Regions from separate parts of the Homo sapiens genome. Here region 2 is linked to region 1. The links come from fine-mapping of genetic effects on gene expression. A gene starts in region 1. The other region holds a variant in brackets. All regions are shown on one strand. Distances are from middle to middle. Region 1 holds the start of NT5DC1 (5'-nucleotidase domain containing 1). Region 2 overlaps FRK (fyn related Src family tyrosine kinase).

Region 1 (2,922 bases):
CTACTCCCACATGAAACAAGATATTCCCCAAGGAAACATGTGCCCTTCAATGTGGCATGCACCTGGAAGTTTGACTTTGGTAGCATTCTATTGCAAGGTGCAGAGGAGAATGCCAAGGTCAATGCTCCAGGGCCAACAAGCTTTTTCCAGCCTCTCCAACAATCCAGCCTTTTCTCTTTTGGTTCACAGACATTGAAAACATGATTGTTGGACTCATCAGTGAACAGCTTAATCTTCTTGAAGATTCTTTACTTTTCCTATTCCAGAGAGATTTGTTTGGGGCTTTTAAGTGTTATAATGGAACAAGTTATCAATTTTATTCAAATGGGTCTACTAGGTATAAGTGTCCTCCTACTCAATTGTACTATCTATTGCACTAAATTAATCCTCTGATTGGTCTATTAGCCTCAGAAGGATTAGTATTTGAAAGGGTTAAATGCAGTTCTCAATCAATTATATTTTCATTATGTCACGACTATTGATTTGTCCCATTAGACACATTGTTCCTTTAAATTGAGAACTGAAGCAGTGTAAACATAATAGATTTGTATTTTCTTTTTAAAATGAGGTACTATGTAATAAAGATCTCAAAGTGCTAGTCCTTCACATCCGGAAATCAGGAAGAGAATTAAATGCCCTAAGGCATACATTGTATGTAATGGATTAACTTTCTCTGCATCTAAAATGGTAGTAGTTATACAGTTCTTGAGAGAATTAAGCAAATGTCACTCAAAACATTTTGTGCTCTATAAACCTTAAACCCGGTTTGCAAAAGTTTTTTGTAGTATGCTCTATATATTTCTATGAAGTTTCTGATGCCCTTTCATAAAAAATTCATTACAATAACAAAATAGGATTATCAAGTAATAACCAATATTGGTTTCCATAACAAGTATCATCTTGCAAAATGGTTCTTCACGATGTCTGATACATTTATTTTCTAACGCACTCCAGGGTATGAAATAGTGAAAGGTCTGTCTTCCACTTAACCACTTAGGAAACCAAGGAATATAAAGTTTTTGGTTTAAACCACTATCAAAGATCACGTGGGTGAAAAGACCTTCCAAATTGTAGGCTAACTGGGTCAGAGGGATATTAGCGGATGAATTTTTTCTATGATCTTACTATTCCTCACACAGGGGTAAAAGGTCAGGTCTAACCTCATGATCTCCTGGTTTCCGAGGCGCCCTGAGGCGATGGAGTGTCCCGGTTAATTTTGTGGTAGCCCTCGGGAAAGGCTACGTGCCTACAGGTCTCAGCTGTGCAGCAGCGGCACCGCTCCTGGACCCCTACTGCCTTCTGGGCTCCTAGGCTTGCGGAACAGATCAGGAGTCGCCGGCATTGGGGTACCAGGAGGACGCGAGCTGACTACCTGACTCCGGGCGGCGCAGGACGCCCGCCGCGCGAGGGGCGGGGGCTAAGCGTATCGAGGGGCGGTGCTCGAGGGCGCGGGAGGCGGGAGAGGCTGCCGCGCCGTGTGCCCTGGCAGCCGCAGCCCCGCCCCGCCGCGTCCGGCCCGGTCCTGTCCCGCAGCGTCCCGCCAGCCAGCTCCTTGCACCCTTCGCGGCCGAGGCGCTCCCTGGTGCTCCCCGCGCAGCCATGGCTCAGCACTTCTCCCTGGCCGCCTGCGACGTGGTCGGATTCGACCTGGACCACACTCTGTGTCGCTACAACCTGCCCGAGAGCGCCCCGGTGAGTGGCGCGGGCTCCGGGGCGCACTGCGCGCAACCTCCATGGCGGCTGGGGCTTGAGTTTCCTCCAGGTTTGGGCAACGGCGGACGCTGCCCGGGGCCTGCGGCGGCCGAGTCTTGCCGCAGAGCGCGGCCTCCAGCGGCGAGAAGGGGCGGAAGTGTGCAGCCTCCGCTCCGCGCCGGTGCCGTGGGGACCGGCACATTTACCTCAGCCATTAGCTAATGTTGAGAGGGATAGGGAAGAACGAAGGAGGGGCAAACTGCGCAAGACCGGGCTGGGGAATCGGTGATTTCTAGGGCCGAGGAGGGGCGGGGTCAGGGGGACTAGGGCTGTCCTTGAAGATCTCACGTCGTGGAACTTTCTCTGCATGTCTTTCTGGACACCAGCTGATTGTGGACACAGCCACTTGATTTGGTACTTGCATTTTTTTTGGCTGCATTTTTCTGTTTGCACGATCAACCACCCATCAGTGTTTAAACTGCAATCTGGGAGAGATGCGTAGTATATAGTGTAGTGTATTGAAAGGAACACTAGTTGAAAAGTCATTAAGATCTTAGCCCTAGTTTTACCTTCTATCAAGAGAAGAAAATACATATTTATTGCGCATCGACTACGTGCTCCGTGCACTTTGAATACATTCCAGTCCTACCAACAGTCTGCGAAGTTTGGGTCCTCACTGTGCCCTGAGGGAGGGGGACATGGAGTATGCATGCTTCCAGACCTGTACACTCAAATTAATTGCCCTCCCTCCACTATTCCTTTGGTTTCCCAATTCCCAAGGAAACTAATTTTGAAAAGTTACCAGATTTTTTTAGTCCAAGATCTAAGCATCCAGACAGAAAAAGAGCTGGTTATGAGTACAGTGGTGAAAGCGAGGACTCCTCAGCCAGACTGCCTAGCTTAGGACACCAGCTCCACTGTTACTAGCTCTGTGACTTCGAGGAAGTTACTTAACCTGTGCTGCTTCTCAGTTTCCCCATCTGTAAAATGGAGCTAATAATTGGATTTACCTCACAAGATTGTTGCAAGGATTAAATGAGTAAGAGATGTATAATGCTTAGAATAGTACCTTGGCAAAGACAAGTGTTTGCTTTTATGGTTACCACCCAAACTATTTGGAAACCTCACAGTTTATGGGTAGAACTCTAGATCACTGGTGCAGACATCAGCCAGGGTTGTGCCCCATTATGGGCACCCGCCAGTTCCTGCACCCACCAGTTCAGGTACACG
Region 2 (2,922 bases), 45 kb before region 1:
AAACAACCATATGTATATTTATAGTGTATTTTTTATAAATATAGTATTATTTATATAGTATATTATATATTATTTATACTATATTATATATAATATAATATATATAATATATAATAGTATATTATACTATTATAATATTATACTATATATTATATATTATATAGTATAATATAGTATAATACTATATTTTATAAATATAGTGTTATTTATATATATAAATACCTTTTTATTTCATTTCTAAAATTATAGTAAGTATACTTTGTCTTAGAGGAGAGAACCCAGAAATGCCAGGCATTATTTTCAGGCATTTATTACTAGGTATTATTTTCATTTTGACACATGGGCATTTAGTCTTCCCTGACAACTTACACAAAGGGAACAAAATAAATGATCTAGATAAAGAACAATTGTGGAACTGATCGCACACTGGTGACTTTTAATAATTCAAACTTCTCAAAGTAGATAACATCTATTATGTCAGAGTGGATTATGAATATTCTGATGACTTTTAAAATGTATTAAGGGTAATGTTAATTTTTAAACCACATTGTTTCTATACCTATAATTAAGATGCAAAAGCTGGTCTCATATCCCAGCTAAGAAAAAAATCTGCTGACATTTAAGTTGAAAATGATTAGGCACACTATGTACAATTTGTATTCAATAATTATTAAATTCCACAGCATTCAAATGACAAAATAGCAAAGCCTCACTCTATTTTAAAACGGTGATATAGGTGATATAAGAATCTTTCCAAGAATATACCACTTTGTTTCACCATGCTGCTTTCAAGCTCGACAATGGCAATCATCATAGGTTAGATAAAATCTTCAAAGAACTCTAGTCTGACACACTAAAGAGCAGCACAAGCAGGAAAATATGGCCTAAATACATGGAGAAAAATCCCATTACTTTTATACTTCAGAACATTCTAACATTTTTATACCATAATCATAAACTACCAACAAAACTACAAGTTACAAATATTTATTCTTGCTTTCTTTTTCAAGGAAGCCACTGAAATGATGAATAGATGAGGAATTGGAAATTATCTACCTTTCACAGTAATAAGAGGAGAAGAAAAACTTTCTACAAAATCCAGTACTTTGCTTCTTCCCCTGCTAAAGTGCTAACAAGAGATACAAAGACACCATCGTAGGTCAGTATGGGTGGCTCCTCTAGCCCTCCTACCCACAAAGGTATGCCATGCTCAAATTTAGGAGACAGAAATAAACTTTATGGCCTTTATTGTTTCACACATAAGTGTGGAAATATTTCTTAACATAAAGCCAAATTATATATATATAACAAAGCAAATACTAATTCCTCTGCCTTTGCTGAGTCATTCACTTAGCACCATACCAGGCCTATAGAATGGACTTA[A/C]GACAAAATTACTGATTCACAAGTAAGAAGATACACAAGAATATGACCTAGAAAAATGTGGAGCTTAATAAACAATAAACTTTAGAGATGATTGTAGTGATCTAATTTTCTTAATAGAATCTTCATTTATGTCTTTGAGAAGTGTATGGAGTCAGAAGTTCAGCAGCACATTTCATTGTTGTTATCATAACTTAAACTTAACATGCAAAGGGGAGTCAAATCAGCTATCTCAACTGCTGCCCTTGGCTTGCGTGGTCAAGTTGGCGAAGCAGAAATCATCAGTGGCTGGCTTATGTGATTATGTCCACCCCATTCCCCTCCTACCAATCCCCTTTCTGGGAGATTAAACTGATCTCATCTCTGACCCTAGTTCAATTTAACACAAAAGTATGTTAGACAACACCTAAGGTACACTTTAACAATTAAGCAAAAAATTGTTCATTTGGTTTTTTTTTTTTTTTTTGGTTGGTGGGGATTCGAGATAGGGTCTGGCTCTGTCACCCAGCCTGGAGTGCAGTGGCACAACCATAGCTTGCTGCAGCCTCAACCTCCCAGGTTTAAGCAGTCTTCCTGCCCCAGCCTCACTCTCTCGAGTAGCTGGGACTACAGGTTTGTGCCACCATGCCTAGCAAATTTTTTAATTTTTTTGTAGAGACTGGGTCTCACTATGTTGCTCAGCCTGTTCTTGAACTCCTGGACACAGGTGATCCTCCCTAAGCAAAAAAACTTTTTAAACTCTTTGCAGATAAATGATGCTACGTCTAATATTATTGCTGATCATATTGCTTTTTATCAATATTTTGCAATACTTGAATTTTTTACAATTAAAGCAATGAAATTTAAAGCCATTACTTTTGGTTCTAATATTTATATGTTATTTCCACATCATTATTTTTATGTGAACTTTATATCTTTAAAAACACCATAAATAAAATATTAAAGAAAGTTCTGATTAATAAGACCCTAAGGGCAAGGTTTTCGAGGGATTTCACATTGAAGATGTTGAAGAAAAAGACTCATCTCTAAAATGAGCTAGGAATAAATTCAAGTCGAAGATAAGATAAATCTAATGATTCTTCATAAAGACAAAATAAATCTTCAAGAATTGGTTTATTATATCACTTAGTGGAAGATATTCAGTAAAGGTGAAAAGCATTTCTAAGTGGGATAAGAATTAGTAAATTGGGCTTTTTAAACAATAGTTTGTTTTTCAACATCTCTACTTCCAAGTATAAAAGAAAACAAACAAACTGCAAACTAAAGCCTTAAACTAATTTTCCCTGGCACCAATAACTCCAGAAGTATTTGCAGTTTCTTCTTACAGATGCACATCAAAAGTAAAGACATAAAAACACAAATACTAACATACGTTGCATTAAACTGGTCTAATTAGGAATTAGATGACAGCTTTCATTGGTTTCCCATTGCCTACTCATCCCATACATGTGGATATAAACAATAATCTTTCCTTAAGTCAACTTACTGAGCTCATGATTTTAAAAAATTACGTTAATTTTCACAGCATTCAGGAGAAAAAAA

What was found. PIP is the estimated chance that this variant, and not a neighbour inherited with it, causes the effect.
Region 2: its variant is fine-mapped to the expression of NT5DC1 in whole blood (TOPMed, PIP 0.91).

Annotation. Positions count from the first base shown.
Region 1 is chr6:116,099,332-116,102,253 of GRCh38, forward strand. NT5DC1 (5'-nucleotidase domain containing 1) reads left to right here and starts at 1,522. Exons shown (of 12, transcript NM_152729.3): 1 at 1,522-1,692. The coding sequence starts at 1,600. It also overlaps a transcript of FRK not described here. RefSeq lists enhancers at 1,182-1,704, 1,705-2,225 and a silencer at 1,338-1,597.
Region 2 is chr6:116,054,372-116,057,293 of GRCh38, forward strand. The region is part of intron 1 of FRK (fyn related Src family tyrosine kinase); the gene reads right to left. Among named protein-coding and RNA genes, the nearest start is that of FRK, 5.1 kb to the right of the region's middle. The variant A/C (reference allele first, on the strand shown) is at 1,384.